Regions from separate parts of the Homo sapiens genome. Here regions 1, 2 and 3 are each linked to region 4. Evidence: fine-mapped expression QTL. A gene starts in region 4. Each other region holds a variant in brackets. All regions are shown on one strand. Distances are between the middles of the regions.

Evidence for each region.
Region 1: its variant is fine-mapped to the expression of PIAS1 in tibial nerve (GTEx, PIP above 0.99). The same link has a PIP of 0.9 or more in aorta, breast, esophagus mucosa, esophagus muscle, fibroblasts and subcutaneous fat.
Region 2: its variant is fine-mapped to the expression of PIAS1 in whole blood (TOPMed, PIP above 0.99).
Region 3: its variant is fine-mapped to the expression of PIAS1 in skeletal muscle (GTEx, PIP 0.97).

What each region holds. Positions count from the first base shown.
Region 1 is chr15:67,952,548-67,957,746 of GRCh38, reverse strand. No RefSeq gene overlaps it. Among named protein-coding and RNA genes, the nearest start is that of PIAS1, 99 kb to the left of the region's middle. RefSeq lists an enhancer at 2,619-2,698. The variant T/C (reference allele first, on the strand shown) is at 2,920.
Region 2 is chr15:68,195,846-68,201,044 of GRCh38, reverse strand. CALML4 (calmodulin like 4) reads left to right here. Exons shown (of 5, transcript NM_033429.3): 3 at 1,364-1,504; 4 at 3,417-3,605. Among named protein-coding and RNA genes, the nearest start is that of CALML4, 6.9 kb to the left of the region's middle. RefSeq lists an enhancer at 1-524. The variant T/C (reference allele first, on the strand shown) is at 2,426.
Region 3 is chr15:67,913,598-67,918,597 of GRCh38, reverse strand. No RefSeq gene overlaps it. Among named protein-coding and RNA genes, the nearest start is that of RNU6-1, 76 kb to the right of the region's middle. RefSeq lists an enhancer at 1-170. The variant T/GT (reference allele first, on the strand shown) is at 2,698.
Region 4 is chr15:68,051,805-68,057,003 of GRCh38, reverse strand. It overlaps PIAS1 (protein inhibitor of activated STAT 1), which reads right to left and starts at 2,689. Exons shown (of 14, transcript NM_016166.3): 1 at 2,654-2,689. The coding sequence starts at 2,677. RefSeq lists a silencer at 2,391-2,890.

The sequences.
Region 1 (5,199 bases), 99 kb after region 4:
GCCCACTTCGAAGATGAGAAACTCAGGCAGGTGCCTGGGAAGGTGTGTTGGCCCCATGGGGTGGGACAGATGTCAACGCTTGGAGAAGTCAGCCAGGCTGGGAATCCAAGCTACACTTCCTCATTCCAGTAGGATGAGGAGCAGCCTAAGTGGATGGCTCTTCCTCAGGCTTTCTCCTTTTTGGTCTCCTTAAATATCTATAAAGCTTTTGTTGCTGTTGTTGAAGTTCTAGGGAAAGCATGAAAGAGAAGCAGCAACACCCTGTGGGCAGGAGGCAGTAGCATTCAGGGTGAGAAGTGTCCTCTCAGGAAACACTGTCAAGGCTGGCCAACTGCCCTCTCCCACTGGTCTTACTGCTCTCTTTTTGAGATGGAGTCTTGCTCTTGTCTCCCAGGCTGGAGTGCAATGGCGAGATCTTGGCTCATTGCAAACTCCGCCTCCGAGGTTCAAGTGATTCTCCTGCCTCAGCCTCCCGAGTAGCTGGAATTACAGGCATGCGCCATCACACCCAACAAATTTTGTGTTTTTAGTAGAGATGGGGTTTCACCATGTTGGCCAGGCTGGTCTCAAATTCCTGATCTCAAGTGGTCCGCCAACCTCAGCCTCCCAAAGTGCTGGGGTTACAGGTGTGAGCCATGGCGCCTGGCTCTCCCTGCTGTCTTACTCCAGCTATACTCCTTCCACAGACGACTTTGGAGGTCCTGGGTTTTGCTTGGAGGTTCTGGGTTTTGCTCTCAGGAGGGAAACAAGGTTCCTTTCATATCTGTGATACGTACATTTGCCAGATAATTCAAGTTGGGATATTCTAAACAACCATTTCTTTAGATTTTTCTAAGCTCAATCTTGTATCTATTTGGATTCTCAGAAATCTTTCTGGTTATAGAATGTTTGTTTCTTTTAAAAAATCCAGGATCATTATTAAAAGCAACTAAAACTAGCCATTCTCATTTAGGATCCCTGCAGGGGATCTATACAATTTGAGGTGAGTTTAATACAGGGACTATTTACAAAGTTGTGCAGACAGAGCTTAGGGAGCCCACCAAAGGACACTGACACACCCTGGGGCTAGCAAAAGAGGGGAGCAGTTATCATTCAGAGGCCTGGAGGGGAGAGAGGAGACAGTAGTTACCAGTACCAAGACAGGGTGGCCTGAGGTAGAGGAATGAAGATAAAGCATGGTGACTTGGAAAGGAAGAAACCAAGGAAATACATCCCTTTCCTCTGGCCCTCCTCCTATCTCCTGCCAGTATTTCTCATTTGCCAAACTCTACCGGAAGGCTGAGAACCAGAGAGGCCACTGACATAGTCCATGGAAGTCAGCCCCTCCTGGGGCACAGAGTAGGGTGAGAAAAGATTGGAAATGGACATGGATATGGAGGGGCAAATGGAAGATACCCAAGGCTTCCATTATTAATGAGCATCGACAACAATATTAATCATTTCCATTTAAGTCCCTGCTTTGTGCCCTTCATACCAATCTTGCATTTTACAGATAAGAAAATGATGGTTCACAGGTTAGTGTTCTCGAGTGTCCCTGTAGATTAGAAGTCAAGATAACCCTGCAAGAGGGAAATTAATAAGGATCAAAACAAAAACGGATGATCTCAGCCATCTAGATATGTTAGCTATCTGTTGCTGCTAATGAATTTTCCCCAAATTTAGTAGCATAAAACAATAAACACTTAGTATTTCACACAGTCTCTGTGGGTCAGGAACAGCTTGGCTGGGCGGTTCTAACTCGGTCTCCCATGAGATTTTCAAGAAGTTGACCAGGTCTGCAATCGTCCGAATGCTGGATGAGGCCTGGAGAATCCACTTCCTAGGTGGCTCTTGCACCTGGCACCATGATTTGAATATCTGTCTTTAAATTTAACTGACATTGTCATAGTATTAAGAGGTGGAACATTAAGAGGTTATTAGGTCGTAATGGCTCTGCCCTCAGAGGTGGGATTGATACTGTTACAAAAGGATGAGTTCATCCCCTCTTTTTCTCTCTCTTTGCCTTGCTGCCATGTGATGACACAGCAAGAAGGCCCTTGCCAGATGCCGCTGTCTTAATCTTGGACTTCCTAGTGTGTAGAACTGTGAAGAAATAAATTACTGCTCTTTATAAATTACCCGGTCTCAGGTATTCTGTTAGAGCAGCACAAAATGCATGAAGACACTCACCCTGCAAGTTAGTGCTGGGTTTTAGCAGGAAACCTCAGTTCCCACCACGTGGACCTCTCCACAGGACTAGTTGAGTGTCTTCATGAAATGGCAGTTGGCCTACCCTGAATGAATAATTCAAGAAAGCCAGACAGGGAGGAAGCCACATTCCCTTTTAAGACCTAATCACAGAAGCTGCACGCACTGTTACTTCTGCCACATGCTATTCATTACAAGTACGTCACAAAGTCCGGTCCACCCTCAACAGGAAGGGAATTAAGTTCCATCTTTTTTTCTTTTTAAGAGACAAGGTCTCGCTCTGTGGCCCAGGCTGGAGTGCAGTGGCATGATCATAGCTTACTGCAGACTTGAACTCCTGGACTCAAGTGATCCTCCTGCCTCAGTCTCCTGAGTAGCTAGGACTACAGGTACATGCCACCATGCTCAGCTAATTTCATCACTTGAAGAGCAGAGTAGTAAAGAATTTTTAGGCGTATTTTAAAACCACCATATGTCACAATAGCAATATTGAAGACATTGTGGTTATATAACTGAAGAATTTGGGGAGGACTTGAAACTGCACTGAAACATGACCATCACCAAACAAGGTGAAACCTCCCGAGCACACTGTGTACTGCCTGAAGAAAGAGCTGGCAGAAGAGGAATAGTTTCCCAGGCATCTGTGCAAAGATGGCCCAGGGGAAAATGCTGCACAGGAAATGGTGATCCTAGTGAACACAAGCTTTCCGATAAAAGGAGAGGCATACTTGG[T/C]TTAGGAACAGGAACCTGTCATGTCTGGATGAAATATGTGTCAGAATTATCCATTTCCCCTGGGCAAGGCTTACCTTCTGGGAAGGCAATGTCTTAGGCAGCAGACACGAGGATTTCACTAAATCTAAAGAACTACCTCCATTTAATATCAAGTAATTGCTCATTTTTGATGCCCAATAGTGTCTTATGAGTGTGGCTAATGTGACATCAGCCTGAACATTTCCAGATTTGCATAGCTAAGGACTGAGTAGATCCACGGAAGTAGAAATCCCACCCTGGTATGGCCTGCCTGCAGAGCAATCACTGCCTCAGGTCACAGCCTTATCTTACCATGCCTTTTGTTAGTGCAGAACCTATTCCACAAAAACTCATGTGATGATAGGGCACTGTTTATGACAGCAAAATAGTGCAAACAACTCAAATGTCTCCAGGAAGGGATTGGTAGAATAAACTGTTACACAGTGGAGTATTATATGGCTGTAAAAAAGGAGGAGGAAGATGTTTATAACCAGTGCTTTCTGAAAGAAATTTCTGTGATAATGGACATATTCTATTCTTGGACAAATGGTAGCCATCAGCCGCATGTGGTTATTGACTGCTTGAAATGTGAATAGTTCAGCTAAGGAACTAATCTTGTTTTTTTTTAAGACAGAGTCTCACTCTGTCACCCAGGCTGGAGTGCAGTGGTGCTATCTTGGCTCACGGCAACTGCTGCCTCCTGGGTTCAAGCCATTCTTGTGCCTCAGCCTCCCCAGTCGCTGGGATTATAGGTTCGTGCCACCACACTTGGCTAATTTTTGTATTTTTAGTAGAGACGGGGTTTTGCCATGTTGGCCAGGCTGGTCTCCAACTCCTGGCCTCAAGTGATCCACCTGCCTCAGCCTCCCACAGTGCTGGGATTACAGGCGTGAGCCACTGCACCCAGCTAAATTTTAATTGTATTTAATTTTTGCTTAATAGCCATATATGGGTAGTGACTATTTTATTGGACAGCACTGCTTAATACAGATCTCCAGGATAGATTGTTAAGTGAAAACACAATATACAGGAAGTGTAGACCAGTGTATATAGGATGTTACTTTCTGTGAATGAAAGGAAGAGAAAAACATATGCATTACTTATATTTGTGGAAGTTGCATAAAAACACTGAAAGGATAAATTTAAATGGTTGCCTCTTCGACAAGAACAGGATGGAATGAAAGTGAGACTTTGCAGTGTGTGTGGTTTTTTTTTTTATTTTAATTTCCCTTTTCATTTTTTTTTTTTCTTTTTGAGACAGGGTCTTGCTTAGTCACTCAGGCTGGAGTGCAGTGGTGCAGTCACAGCTCACTGCAGCCTCAACCTCCCAGGCTCCTCTGGCCTCAGCTCCTGAGTAGCTGGTGACATATGCACCACCATGCCTGGCTAAGTTTTGTATTTTTTTTTGTAGAGATGGAGTTTTCACCATGTTGCCCAGGGTGGTCTTGAACTCCTGGGCTCAAGTGATTCTCCCGCCTTGGCCTCCCAAAATGCTGCAATTACAGGTGTGAGCCACCATGCCCAGTTCTAGATTCTTTAAATTGTGCTAAAAATAAATAAATAAATAAATAAATAAATAAAAATAACATAAAATTTACCATCTTAACCATTTTATAAAATTAATAAACTTTACTTTTTAGGACAGTTTTGGGTTCACAAAAAAACTGAGTAGAAAGTACAGAGAGTTCCCATCCCCACTCCTGTCCCCACGTACGCACAGCCTTCCACTATCAACATCCCATACCACAATGGTACCTTTGTTACAAGCAGTGAACCTTCATGGGTACAGCATTATTACCCAAAGTTCATAGTTTACATTAGGATTCACTCTTGGTGGTATACATTCTATGGATTTTGACATACATATAATGACATGTATCTACCATTGTATACATGTATAATGACGTATGTATAATGACATGCATCACACAGAATAGTTTCACTGACCTAAAAATCCTTCATGCTCTGCCTATTCATACCTCTCTCCCTTCTAACCCCTGGCAGCCACTAATCTTTTTACTGTCTCCATAGTTTTGGCTTTTCCAGAATGCTCTATAGCTGGTATTATACAGTCTGCAACATTTTCACATTGGAAAATGCATTAGTAATATGCATTTAAATTTCCTCTATGTCTTTTCATGGCATGATAGCTCATTTCTTTTTAGTGTTGAATCACTTGACATTGTCTGCATATACCAAAGTTTATTTATCCATTTGCCTATGAAAGGACATATTGATTGCTTCCAAGTTTTAGCAATTATT
Region 2 (5,199 bases), 140 kb before region 4:
TGGTCTGGGCTGGGGATTTGGGGGGCTCCTTCTGCATCCTCTCCCTCACCCTACTGCTCTCAGTGGTGTCTGCCCTGGAACCGAAGGCAGTGTGGCCTGGTGGGCAGAGCTGCCCACAGCCAGGCTCTCAGTGTTCCAGCCCTCAATGTCCTGTCCGCACATGGGAATATGAGGGGGCGCATCACAGGGTTGTGGGGATGAAGCGAGGGCCTGGGGGTGGAGTGCTCAGCAACGTGAATTGTCATTGTTGCTGTCATCAGCTAAGGGGCTATTATTGTCCAGGCCTCTAAGGACCTACCTGGGTGGTGTGAGAAGCAGGAGAGAGAACAGAGCCCTGAGCCCCAGCCTGGGAGGGCCAGCGCCAGGCCACTGTGTTTCCACGGCTCCACCCACAGGCCCGGGTGCCTCGTCTGGGCTGGACGAGAATCTCCCTGTCCTGATGGCAGCCCCACCTACCCCTAAATCAGATGCTCAGTCAGTGCGGTTCAGGGACTTTTCCTGAACTCCCAGCTGGCCTTCCTGGGCCTCCCAGGGCCGGGAGCCCGTGGGATGGCTGTGTCAGGCCGGGAGTCTGTGGGTTTAGGGGAGCTAGCTCCGGCTGCCTTCCACCTCCACCAAGTACCGAAGGAGAAAGGGCTTCAGACCCTGGGAGAATTTCCCAGCAGGACCCTTTGAAGTCTCTAAGAACAGGACCAGGGCCCGAGTCCAAGGACAGCTTGAGGGTTTAGCAGCCTGGAGGCCAGGGCAGGGGCAATAGGCTCAGAAATGCCCCAGCTCTGATGATGATGATAATATCATCATATGAAGGCCACTCTCTGGCAGGCCTCCTGGGATTTCTGGCTCTCACAGTAATCCTGAGGCCTTATTATTCCCATTGTCCAGAAAAGTTGTGTTTGCAGAGGTCCCCTGGGGGTCTGGACGCCTTGCTGTGGGTTCCTGCTCTCCCCTGTGGGCCCTGGAGGGGCACTGTCCTGGGAGTTCCAGTCCTGTGGGTTGGCGGGGAGGGGGAGGGAGAAGGAAGGGAGGGAGTAGGGAGAAAGGGAAGGGGAGCCAGATAAAATACAGGACACCCAGTTAAATTAGAATTTCAGACAAACAACAAATACTTTTCCAATAGAAGTATATGTCCTATGCAAAATTTGGGGCATACAATAAAAGTATATTCAGTGTTTATCTGAATTCGGTTTAACTTGGCAGTCCTGTATTTTCATTTGCTGTATCTAGCACCCTTGGGAGGGGAGAGAGGGATGGAGGGAGTAGGCAAAAGGAAGGGGAAAAGAGGGAGAAGAGACTAAGGATGGGGAGGGCGGCATGGGCGGAGAGTGACCAGACGCTGCTGACCCTCCCTCTGGGCCGTGTGCAGAGTACAAGGAATGCTTCTCCCTGTATGACAAGCAGCAGAGGGGGAAGATAAAAGCCACCGACCTCATGGTGGCCATGAGGTGCCTGGGGGCCAGCCCGACGCCAGGGGAGGTGCAGCGGCACCTGCAGACCCACGGGATAGGTGAGTGGTGGTGGGAACAACGGGGAGAGGGGAGGGGCCCAGCAGGTGGGTGCAGACAGTAGAGGTGTGAAAAGCTCAGCAGTTTGAGGGGCAGGTGGCAGGGAGGCCTCCTGGGGATCCAGCTGTGGCAGCCCCAGACCAGGAGTGCCGTACCTCACTTGGGCTTCCTGGAATCCTCATAGCAACCAGTGATACCCCATCTCACAGACCTCGGGATCTAGGCGTTCCAACAGACTTACCAAACCCAGAGAAAAATCGCGCTGACAGCGATCCCATGTTGCTTTATAGGAACATTTCCCTTTGTTGAGTATTTGTCATGTGCTTAGCTCCAAAAACCCTATGAAGTAGGCATTCTCCTAACCTTTTTTTTTTGAGGGGGGACAGAGTCTTGCTCTGTCACCGAGAAGCTGACGTGCAGTGGTGAGATCTCGGCTCACTGCAACCTCTGCCTCCCAGGTTCAAGTGATTCTCCTGCCTCAGCCTCCCAAGTAGCTGGGATTACAGGTGCCTGCCACCACGCCTAGCTAATTTTTGCATTTTTAGTAGAGATGGGGTTTTGCCATGTTGGCCAGGCTGGTCTTGAACTCCTGACCTCAGGTGATCTGCCTGCCTCGGCCTCCCAAAGTGCTGGGGTTAGAGGCCTGAGCCACTGCGCCCAGCTTTCTCCTAACTCCATTTTACAAGCAAAGATCAAGGTTTACATCCATTAAGTTCTTGAGCCAATGATGGCATCAGGATTAGTACCCAATTCTTCTGATATCAAAGACTGACCTAAAAACTATGCAATAGTTTTTAGAAAAACTATTGCTAGAAAAAAAATGCTGAAAGAAAACCCATCCAAGATGTTACCAAGTGGTTCTCTCTGGTAATGGGATTATGGGTGATTTTTGTTCCTTTTATTGTTTCCTGTATTTTCAACAA[T/C]GAGAACACATACAGCTTTTCATAATCAGAAACAAGTTTTATGTTTTGTTTTGCTTTTTCTAAGAAAAAAAGTAGTTTCAGAGCCTGGGGTTGCTGTTTGCATTGGGGGCTGGACACTCAGGAAGGAGGGACTGGCGCAGGGGAAGGGCATCCGCTGGGAATAGCACTTGACCCGGAGCCCATAGGCTGCTGCTCAGTCTCAGGTCACCAGCTTCCTCATCTCAGGGGGGTCACCACCATCTGCTAGGGTTACCAGAGGCCCCACTAGAGGATGCCTGCAGTTGCGCTGGGAGCCCACCCTGGGGCAGGCCACGCTGGGCCCAGGTGGGCCTCTGAAAGCCTGCAGCCTGGCGGTGGGTTGCTCAGTGGTCTGATACCTGAGATCCCCCATGTCCAGCTCCAAAGGGGTGGTGGTTTCCTTGATTTCTGTCCCCTCCAAACAGGAAGTTGTAGTCCAGGGAAGTTTTGATTTCCTGCAGTTACATCCCAGCCAGGGCCCGTGGAGGAGGGGCTGGGATGGAGACTGCAGTGAGGGGAAGGCAGGTGAGCAGCCCAGCCTGCGACTGAGGCTTGAGACCCCAGGTGGGGGTGCTGATCCATCCTGGTAAGATGTACTGTGGTGGCTGTCAAAGGTGGAATGCACACATGGACCTGTTTCCCTCCAGTTCAGGGCAGGAGGGAAGCGCTAGAAGGGAGCAGAGGAGCCCAGTCCTCCATCTGTGGTTGGGAACCCACTTTCTTGAGCTTTGGGGTGATGATAAGCATCGTCACTGAGGACGTTGCTGAAATGAAGAATGTCCAGTCCAGTGAGGGGCCTGTCGTGGGAACTCGGTGGGAGGGGATGCATCCTCTTCACTGTGACCACTGCCACATCCTGGCATTCCCTGGTCAGTTGACCTTGAACCGGCTGTGCAGGTCCAGCAGGAGGCCAGCTGGCTTCCTAGGAGTCTTTTTCCCTCTGCTCACTCTGCTGTGTTTGCGGGTTTCCTAGACGGAAATGGAGAGCTGGATTTCTCCACTTTTCTGACCATTATGCACATGCAAATAAAACAAGAAGACCCAAAGAAAGAAATTCTTCTAGCCATGTTGATGGTGGACAAGGAGAAGAAAGGTTACGTCATGGCGTCCGACCTGCGGTCAAAACTCACGAGTCTGGGGGAGAAGCTCACCCACAAGGAAGGTAACAGCCTGGGTCCTGTCTCCCAACAGTTGGAGGGGGTTAGGGAGTTGGAAGGAGGGCACCAAAGCCTAGCTGATGCCACCAGGGTGGTACAGACCACCTCTGTTGATGCGCGCGCAGGAGACTGTGAGCAGATGCCACACTAGGTGGGTGCTGGACTGGAGCCTGGGGAAGAACTAGAGGGGCTGGAAGGGCGCAGGGAGGTCTGCCAGGGTGAAGGGACAGCCTAGGGGAAACCCAGCTCGGAACCCACAAGGCAGGGCAGCTGGAGCGTGCAGTCTGGTCTCCCCCTGTGTTCAAGCTCTCACTGTGGGGCTTCATCTAGTGCATGACACCCCTGGGAGCACAAATGCCTGCTCCTACTGATAAAGAAGCAGGGGGAGTGAGCGGCTCCCAAGCAGCGGCGCAGGAGCGAAGGCAGGTCTAGACATCCCTGCCCTTTTTCCCATCACAGCAGTCTGCAGTTGCTGCTGAGGTCGAGTTTCCGAATTGAGGTGCTGCTTTGCTCCCTTTCCAACTCAGGCTGCTCTAAGCTCTTCCAGAAAGGGGCTCCAGAGGGAACTTTGCCAGGACAGTTGGAGAACTGCCGAGACAGGCAGGGTTCCTGGTTCCAGAGCCCCACGAGAAAGGGGTCTTTGCTTTGCACCTTCCTGCAGCCTAGCAGGCTGTCCTGCCTCAGAGCAGGACGAGGCCTGGGGTCTTCTAGGAAAGCCCTTTGTACACTGTCAAGGGGATCCCCACGCCAAGGCCATTTACAGCCTTTGTTCTTCCAGCCTGCGGACCCTCCTGCCTAGCCCTGCCATGTTCGCAGCAGCCAGCCAGCCAGCTCTGCCTCTGCCCGAGGCCAGGGACCCCGACCTTAGAGCCTGGGGTTTCTAGGTAGGCTGCCCTGCTTGCCTGTGGTTTGGACAGGAGAGCTGGGCTTGGCCACAAGTGGGTGCTGGAAAGAGGCTTCAATATGACGGACTTTCCGTCTCTGGTTAAATCACAATAAACCACTGGAGGAGAGCTTTGAGGCTGTGGTTTGAATCCTGGGTGCCAGGAGACCTTTCTCCCACCTCGCTTTCCTTGCTGGAAATGAGGGTACAGTAGGTGACCCCTCAGGTCCCTCTGAGCTACCACTCTACAAATCACTCTGCTCAGATTTTAGCTACTGCCATTAAGGCACAGTGCAGAGAGTTTAAAAATTGCTGCAGAGTTTAAAAATTGCCTGACATACAAAAATTAGCCAGGCGTGGTGGCGGGCGCCTGTAGCCCCAGCTACTCGGGAGGCTGAGGCAGGAGGATCACTTGAATCTGGGAGGCGGAGGTTGCAGTGAGCCGAGCTTGCGCCACTACACTCCAGCTTGGGTGACAGAATGAGACTTTATCTCCATAAATAAATAATCGCCCAACAGCAGGCTGGGTCTCCATACCCAGCTTTTCCAGGTTCACCTCTCGTGGCTGTTTTCACATGGATAGGGAAGACATGGGTCATCCTTCCCTCCCAGACTCCCCCCAGGACACTGCCCGGCCCTCTAGACAGCAGGTGGAGTCAGCAGAGGGAGCAGGGCCTTCTTTTTGTGGTTAATGATCTCTGTCCTAAGCAATGCCA
Region 3 (5,000 bases), 140 kb after region 4:
TGGAGCGGGTCAACGGGGCTGACAGAGCTGTTAACACACTGCCATCCATTGGGCCACGGAAAATGGGACTAAAAGAGCTAATTAGCACACTGTAACACACCCTCTGGGCTTCAGGGTCCAGGGCACCGCTGCTTGGGTGCCACCACATTCCCCTCGTCTGGACACCAGAGTCTACCACAGGAGTCGCTTGTGACACACCTGGTTCAGCCACAAGCCCTGCATGGATCCCACTCCTGTGCCGGCTCTTAGAACAGCTGGCTGGACCCTGCTGTCACTGGCTCACACATCCCCTCCTGCCAGCACAGTCACAGCAGACACAGCACCCACACTGGAGTGCAAGCCAGGCATAGCCCAGCAGTAGATGGGGCCTCTCCTGTGGTGAACCCAGGCCCGAGCAAGGCCTGGGCCAGGGGTATTGCTGGCTGGAGGTCTCTGGCTGGCAAAGTGACCGAGAAAAATCCCGCATCAACAGGTCAAATCTGTTTTTGCTTTAAAAATCTGTTTTTGTAAATAAGGTTGTATTGGAAGATGGCCATGTCCATTTATGTATATATTGCCTGACTGCTTTCTAGATATAAGGCAGTTGAGAAATTGCAACAAAGATTGTATGGCTCACAAAGCTGAAAATATTTACTATCTAGGTTTAGAATGAAAAAAGAAAAATAGCTCAGACTGCTGTAAGCTATGAGAGGTATGCAAAATTTACTTGGCTCAGAGAGACCTGGGACTTCAGTCAGGCCCCTACTCTCATCCCTCACCCCCACCTCTGCATCCCGCCCATGCCCTGGGGGCAATTGTTTAAAGGCATTTTGTTCCTGACTAGCTGGCCTCACCCATTATCTTCATGTTCCTAGAATTTGTGATACAAAGAACAATGTATAACCAATTAATAGCTTATGTTACTTTAATGTAAATTCTTGTTAAACAACTTAGGAACTGCCTCTTCTTTTTTTCCCTTTAAAAACCCATTTGTAGGTGCTGCTAATTAGAATGTATATTCAGGGCAACTTGAATCCATGTTCCTGGGTGGCCATCCTCAAGCTTTGGGCTCAAATGAACTCTATATTTAATCATACTTTCTGAATATTATTTAAGGTTGACAAGAATAAGGGAGATAAATATATACAGAACTAACCAAAGGAGTTAAAAGTGTTTGTTCTGGGCTGCTGTCTTTTGTCTCTGAATATGAGTTGGCTTTTTAAATTACGTGCGTTACTACCTCTGATAAAAAATAAGAAATTCTTATTAAGGAGTTGTCCTGATTCCCCTGGAGGGACACAGGGGGAAGCACTGGTCTGACATCAGGGTTCATGCCTGAGCCTTGCCCTGCTGTCTGCTGCTCTTTGCCAGCTGTCACCATCCCATCTGAATGGGGCTGAGTGACTCAGAGCTGCCTGGCCAGGGTTTTATGGGAACTGGACATAGGATTTTAGATACCTAAATTGGGAGGAACCACTCTGGGGCAGCCTCCTGTTTCAAGCCATCATTTGGTAGTGCCAGTATCATAAATGAGTGGCCGTATATAGCGCAGGGGTTTAAGTGGTGAATGAGCTCTACTGTTAGACTACCTAGCTTCATAAAACCCAGGCTCTCCCTCTAATTAACTAGGACCTGGGCAAGATATTTAATTTCTCTGTGCCTCAGTTTGTCATGGATAAATGGGACTTACAGTGCCTCCTTATAGGACTGTAGCGAGCTTAATTCAACTAACACATATAAAAACACTTATCACAGTGGCAGGCACATATAAGCCTAATGAATGTTAGCTTTTATTCTCATTTTCACAGATGACGTAAGTGAGGTAAGTGAGGTTCAGAGAGGGAAAGTAGCATGCACAATGTCAAACAGCCAACTGGAGACAGAGCTAGGCCTAGTGCCTGGGACTTTTCTGTCTCTCTGCAATACTCTTTCTCCTTGTACCACCCCAAGTTGCTTAGATATACATAAAGCATCTCTGGAGAGATACACAGAAAAATGAACAGTAGTGGTTACCTGTGGGCAGATAGAGACCAGAAGAATTGTGGAAGAGTAGAAGAGAAGACATCTTTTCACTGGAATTTAAAATTTTCAAGCCACATGACTGTATTATTAACACCAAATAAGGAGACAAATAGATGGATTAATTAAATAAATGGGATTGACTGGGTACAGTGGTCCACACCTGTAATCCTAGCACTTTGAGAGGCCAAGACAGGAGGATCACTTGAGCTTAGGAGCTCAAGACCAGCCTGAGAAACATAGTGAGATCTCATCTTTTTTTTTTTTTTTTTTTTTTTTCAAAAAAGGTAAATAAATGGGACTAATAATGCCTTTCTCATGGTGGAGAACAAATGAGATAACAGAAGTGAAAAGACTTCTACACTAAGTGACAACCAGATGTGAAGGGTTATGACTAGTAATTATGGTGCTTTTTAGTAAAAGCAAACTTTGCTCTGGGTTTATGGAACAAACTGTAAGAAAGGACATAAATTTCAGGCTGTTCATTAGCCAAGTTCTCCTCTTTGAGATGAAGTAGGTTTCCTTGGCCACAGGTGAAGCCATCTTGTACTGCAATGGAAATTTCCATCTTGGCATCCACAAATGAGAGCTTCCCTTCCCCCACACATACTGGCTCTCCTGAGCCCAACACATTGCATCCAGGCCGTCAGTTGGAGAACTCTTCTGGAAAACATGATTAAGGCTGCACAAACTGGGGGG[T/GT]TTATTGGGTATGACAGTGAGGGCCACGGTTTGTTTTTCAAGGGAGGGAGCTAAGTCCCAGAAATAGCTGAGCTCGAGATGGCAGGCGGCTGGCAAAGGCAGGAGGCTCCAGGGCAACGCTCCCAGGCCATGTTGACTTAGGACCGGCTGCCTGAGCATTGTAAACAATTGCAGAAATGATTTCCTACCCTGGCAGAAGTCTTGTTTGGACAAGGGATCCCCCCTCCTTCTTTAAAAGGCAGTTTTATCATTTGTTTGCAAAAATGTTCAATCCCCTCTTTCTTTTCTTGTTCCCTCTGTGGCTCTGGTCTCCCCCAGAGCCAGATGAAAAATCTTTGTGTTTCTTTAATGTTAACCAAACCCCCACTCCTTTTTTAAACTGTTCCAGGTCTGCTGGACAAATACTTCCCAGCAACAGGACTAACAAGCGTCTGTTAAGGATTTTGTTAGGCTGTAGTCTTTAGCTGAAGTGACTTAATTTTTTTTTTCTCCTTGCTTATTACATTTTTAACTCCTAACACAATAAAATCTGCACACACAAGGATTGGGAGAGCCATAAAAATGAAACTCATAATGTCTTGGCCTGAACTAGCGAATGCTCCATCTAGACACTGATGTAACAGATTTGGTCTCACCCATCCTCCCAAGATGTCAGACTAGGAAATAAAACTAGTTGTAAGGGAGTAAGCTTAAAACAGAATTGTGAGCTCTGTCAGGCTGCTGGCTGGGGTGGGGCTTCTGAGAGGCTGGGGGATGGGCTGCACATTCTGAAAAGCAGCCAGAACACTGAGCAGCTCAGAAAGAAGGAATACTCTGTTCTTGACCACCCAGGGACAAGGGCAGCCAGGGGCCAGATGCGGAGCGTGATATGCTAACCTACATAGCCCACATGTCACCTCACTCCAAAAGGGAGGAGGAGGAAAAGAATAAGGAGGGATAAGAGTGGAAGATGGAAAAAGGAAAAGAAAGAGAGGGAGAGGAGATAGGAAGGAAGGGGTGCTTGGAGAGCAGAGGCGGCAGAGGCTGTATCAGTCATAGTCCCAGCTGGAAACAAGCCACTCACAAGCTTGGTAATGGAAGAGAGTTTAGTAAAGGGATTATTGACGAGGTATAGGCAAGAGTTAAGGGAAACCAAGAGGATGGTGCTACAATCCCATAGCCTGCAGCCACAGGGGAGGAGCTGTTACCACTGAGACCTGAAGGTCTTCCTCTAAAGACATTACGTAAGACATAGCTTCTCATCATTATTTCACCAGGAAATATATCACTCTACTTGAGGACATGTTAGAGACAGATGATGAATCCAAATTTAGAACTGACATAGGAGAAAACTGAGGTATAAACAGGCTGGTGGTAAGCATTAAATGTGTTTGAACATGAAAGCCTATATAACCGTAATGATCACATTTACTGGAAAATAATATAATCGTTATAGTTATTGTGGGAAAAAAAACACTCTACAAAATGTTTCTTTGTTAATCATTGCTGTTGTTGATAATAGAACATATGGGGGAAATTCCTAAAACTATAATTAAAGAAGGAATGGAAGGAAAAGGAGATTGGTGTTTGCTTGTTTGTTTTTATGGTAGCAAAATATATATAACATCAGATTTACTCTTTTTTGGAGATAGGGTCTTGCTCTGTCACCTAGACTGGAATGCAGTGATGCAATCACGGCTCACTGCAGCCTCAACCTCTCAGACTTGAGCAATCCTCCCACCTCAGCCTCCCAAGTAGCTGGGACTACAGATGTTCACCACTATGCCCAGCTAATTTTTAAATTTTTTGTAGAGATTGGGTCTTTCTATGTTGCTCAGGCTGGTCTCAAACTCCTAGATTCAAGCAATCCTCCTACTATGGCCTCCCAAAGTGCTGGGGTTACAGGTGTGAGCCAACATGCCTGGCCAAATTGACCAGTTCTGTGGTGTTAAGTACATTCACACTGCTGCACAATGATCACCACCATTTATCTCCAGAACTTTTATCTTCCCAAACTGAAACTCTATACCCACTAAACACTAACTCCCCATTCTCTTTCCTTAACCCCTGGCAACAACCATTCTACTTTTTGTCTCTATGATTTTTGACTATTCTAGATATCTCAAATAAGGGGAATCATACAGTGTGTGTGTGTGTGTGTATGTGTGTGTGTGTGTGTGTGTGTGTCTTATTTCACTTAGCATAACGTCCTCAAGGTTCATTCATGTTGTAGCATTTATGGGAATTTCCTCCTCTTTTAAGGCTGAGTATTTCATTTCATATATATATATATATATATATATATATATATATATATATACACA
Region 4 (5,199 bases):
TGAAAAGTCACTGAGTTTTATGTAAAGCTTCACAGTTGAAGTACTCTATTCCCATTTAAAATTTCAAAAAATCTAGATTTTTTTCTTCTTACTCTGATTTTTCCTATCATATTAGGAATGTATGATATTTACCTCCAAAAAATCACAAACAAAAAGCCTTCAGAAAATATCATTTCCAAAAGGAGTATCTGCCAAACCTTACTGCACAGAAAATTATATATACACATTCTCTTTTTTTTAACACATTCTCAAATAACTATGGTAGGCGTTCCTGAGATCACCTCCTCCACCCCTCAAAAAAAGAACAGCAAATCTAACCACAATAAAGTATTAACCAAATTTTTTTAACGCCGCTATCACCAGCTAAGCAATTTATCACACAGCTCCTCAAAGTCTCAGACACACACAATGACATACCAACATGTCAAAACAGTTATTATAATTTGAAAAATTATACAACAGGAACATAAGAGTAGAAAAAAAAAACTTCCTCTGGAAAAACTCTAGTAGATTTGGGAGAGCACAAAAAACGAGATTAATTTTAGAAAAATAACATTTCTTCAAGTGTTTGGTGTTTATCTGATACTGGTTCATTTTCGTAAAGAGAAACTTTACCTAACAAGACTCACACCAGGGATCTGATCTATCCCCAAAGGCACTTTCTTAAAATGAGAAAGAACAAAGAAGGAAATCTCTCAGCATGTGCTTTCCATACTAGTTTCTTTGGACAGCATCAAGAGTGACAATATAGTCTGCACATGCTTTTCAGCTTTATTCTATGGTCCATGTATAACAACTGATTAGCTATCATTCAAAAGAACTCCTAACAAAATAAATATTACAAGGCAAAGATCACAGCAACATAGTGACTCTAAGAGAAAAATTATAGAAAACATGTCTTAAAGTTGTGTGCTTTTTTTTATTTCAAGGGTTAATTATCTCCAAATATTCAAATTCCTAAGGCTTTCTCATTTCAGTCAATAGTTTGAAACTGGGGAAAAATCAAAACCATCCATTGTAAATCTGCTCTCCCTTCAGTAAATTTGTAATTAGAAGTACATTTTAAAAGAATGACACTCAAAGCCAATACCTTAACATACGAATCTTGGAGTGTAAACATTGTGAAGTTATTAGGAGAAAAGCTCTTTCGGTGAGGATATTCCACAGGAAAAACTCTACAGAATCAAATCTGGCATTTGGTTGTTCTAGAAGTTGTCGTTTCATTATAACGGGGAAAAAATTAAATAATTTTTATTTATTATAAAAAGAAGACTCTCCCCAAAGATTTACAATTGTATATCCCCATCTCCTCTCTGACAGAGATGTCAGTTCTCTGGGTCGAGACATAACCAGCTGCTGGGTTCACACACACAGGAAGCCACAGAGAAGATCGCGTTCAGAGCCTCGAAATAATACGCGTTAGTTAAGAACTGCCTGCTACTAAACCAAAATTATTCAAGCGGAGCCCCATTTGTCACAATCCAGTCATAAGGGTTCCACCACCCCCTCCCCCAACTGCTTGTGTAGTGGTATATCTGCTACGGTAAAGAAGCCATCATCAGGTAAAGATTGGGGTGGGAGAAAAGCGGGGAAAAGGGGGCACCCTTTCATCTAATTTCGTGAGGCGTGAGTAATTGGTACTGTTAAGAGGAACGTTCTATTTATCGGGGGTTGGAGTAGCATGAGGGGAGAATTTCGTTCAAATCAACATGGCCAGCAAGATGTCCCTACAAACAAAAGGCAATGGGGGGATATAAACACGAACCATTCACCTCCATCAGCTACAGCATCGCCATCATGGTGTGTGCAGAGACCCCCAAAGGCTCCTCTCACCCTCCACACCAGCTAAGGCAAAAGAAGGGAGAGAGGTAGCTGCATCCCCCCCTCCCAACACTGCTTCCAAAGACACACTCTTCGAGGGGGTTTCTCCCCTCGGCTGCCCGGAATCAGAGAGAAAGAGTAACGTCCCGCTCACTACCTCTCAGCCGAACCCCAACGCCGGCCCGGGGCTCGCTAAACTTTACCAGAGCTTCTCCCCCAGATCCCCACCCTATCGCCCCGGGATCGCGCTTCCCACAAGCGGGGCACCCCAGGCGCTTCCTGACAAGCGAGCAGCCGGGGAAAGCCGAGTCCGGGGCGGGGGCTACTGGGATCCACGGAGGGGCGGGGCGGCCGAAGCCAAGTTCCCGGGGGTCTGAGAAGAGCGCCTGACAGGAGCCCGGGACTGCAAAGGAGGAAGAGGAAGCGGCCACGGGGAGCTTTCCCAATCCCCCCTACGAGAGCACCCTGCCCCCAGCCCCAGCTCCCCATGGGGGGCAGGGAGGCTAACTGGAAGGTGAAAAAGCCGAGCCCATGAGACAGCTGCAGCCCCTACCTCCGGACTCCCTATCTCTTCCCCCGCCACCCCCGCCAGAGGCGCCCACAACAATAACACGCCGGGGACGACCCGTCAGCGCCCCCGAGGCACCCGGGGCCCGCGGCCCGCCGCAGGCGGGCCCCCTCTGCTGAGACCGGGCGCGCCTCTCTCCCTACAACTCCAGGCCCGGGTGGAGTCAGGCCCGAGAGGCCCCCCAGGGTCGGACCCATCCCCCCTGGCAGCAGCGGCGCCGTCTCCGCGGCCGAATATTAGAAGTGAATTCGAGCTGCGCTTTACCTTTAGTTCCGCACTGTCCGCCATCTTGCGTCTGTCAGCGCAAGCGCAGTGAACTTCGCCGGGGGCCGCCGCTAGACCCGCCCCTCTAGCCGGCCTGGCCCCGCCCCGGCCCGCCCCTCCACCTTCCCAGCCCGCCTCTAGCCTCCGCCCCGCTCAGGGCGCTCGAAGCCCCGCCCCGGGCACGTACAGCTGCGAGACAGGCACGTTCCATTTAAATAATGGCGCCAAGCGGCGAGGTTTGACAGTTACTGCCCCCTCGGTCTCCCTGCCCCCCATCCTAGCTCGGCCAGCTCCTCCCGGGAAGGGCCGGAGCGAGAGGGATGCTGGCCTGAGCCCCATCTCTCTGCGGTCCGCGGAACGCTTCTGCATAGCTTCGACGCCTACGGTCACAGAAACAATGCTGTCCCCCAACCCCCAATAAGCAAGGCTTTTTCAGCACCTGCTACCTGCGAGGCTACCAGTGGGCTAAAAATAGAAATCCATTACATTTAAGGGGCCCTTAATGAAGCATTTCTATCATTATTGGCTCAGATCCTCTTGATAACGAGGGGAGGTAGGCAAGGAAGAGATAATTCCCATGGTATAGATTCAGAAATGAAAGCTCAGAGAGGAAAAGTGACTTGCACAAACAAGTATTTTAACGAGGTGGCGTAAGACAAAATTTTGAAGGTGTTCATTAACATTTTTGTTTAAAAAAGTATTTATTTAGTGACCATCTGCTTGCCTTGTGCTAACGGCTAAATATACATTTTGAAATCAAAGTCCGTGCCCTTCTGTAGTTCTCTAATGGGGAATCAGAGAAGTGAACGAACAAAGATACAATTGCAAATGTTAGTGAGTACCAGAAAGGAGCAAAAGGTCATTGAGAGAGAGAAAGGGTTTGGGAGATGTACTTAATTCTGGGAGGGTTTTATCCACTAAATTGACATTTAAGTAGACTTGATGGAAGGATTATTTCATTCCTTTTCGTCTCTACTGAAAGCCTTCTATATACCTCCTCCCCAACCCCCACTTTTACTAATCAACTTTGCCTCATAACTCATGGAAAAAATGAAAGATATCAGAAATAAACTCCCTTATCTTCTCACCATCAAAACCACCCTTATCTGCATAGTAACATTTGGGTTGCTATGAATGAAGTGTCCCTGCGCCTAGGAAGGCCAGTCCCTTTACCAGTGACCGGATTTTTTTCACGCACATTCCTAAGGATTTTACTCTTACAATTACCTACCCTCCAGCATCGTTAGTTTTTTCCCTCTCAATTGAATTGCTCCTATCAGCATATAAATATATTGAAATTTCTCCCATCTAAAATAAACTTCCTTTGACTCCAAAATCGCCTCTAGGAACTGCCCTATTTTTCTGCTATCTTCATAAATTCTTAGAAAGGTTTTTCAAGATCTCTCCAATAGTGCTTGTTCCTACCTCTCACTTCACATTCACTTCTCAGTCTACCCTGATCGAGCTTTGGCTTCCATCATCTGTATCACTTATCAAGATTACTAATGATCTTGTTTCCAAAGGCAATTGCCAATTCTCTATCCATATCTCAATTGACCTCTCTGTAGAATCGCGAATAATTGACATGGTTCCTTTGATTTGAAACACTTTTCCCCCTGAACTTACCTACACGTCACAGATAGTCCTGTTCCCTCACTGGGCCTCCTTTTTGATATGCTGGTTTCTCCTCTTTGGCTCAATCTTTAAATGTTGGACTGCTCCAGGGCTCGGTCCTTGCATTCTTCTCTATTTTATCACCAGGTGATCTCATCTAACTGGTTGACTTGAAGTCTATATGCTCATGACTTTGAAAATGCTCTCTAGCCTAAACCTCTCCATTGTCAAGAAACAAAAGTAAAACAAATTGAGATTCAAGATCTCATTGGCATTATTGCACTCCTAGAATTGGACAAAACTTCATTCCACAAAATAGAATAAATGTTGCAATGAATCAAGCAGAGGATGTTAACTTTAGAGACAGAAAATAGACTGAAGAAGGCAGAAACAACAAAAAGCAGATTGGTTATATCAAAGTCACTTTTCTTTAAGGTGGAGACGTGGAGACAGAACAGTAGAAAGAAAACTGATTGGTTAACATTGGGTTACTTCAGGTATTCTATTTTAAGGATTAAAACAGGAAATTTCATTATCATGCCTGTTAAAGATTGAAACTTCTGTTTGGAAAATTGGCTATCTCTCTTACCATTTTTTGGAAAACCAGATAACTCAGTTTTGTTTTGGTGAACATGGGTGACACCATTTTGATTTTTAGTCTGATCTGGAGGCCTGATGCAGGAATTTGGTTGAAAACAATGGCATCCCATGATTTTTATTTAACAACCTAGGTGAAATTGTGACTAAGACTGAGGGCATTAGCACTACCCTCATTTAACATCATTCTGTGTTTCCAGTCTCAACACATCATTTATAGATTACAGTGTCCTCATGATTTTGTATTTCTGTCATTGCAGCTGAAGAGAGACCATATGACATTCAACAATTGGCTGTATGCAAATATGTAAAACTTTTTGAGAGAACATAATTGA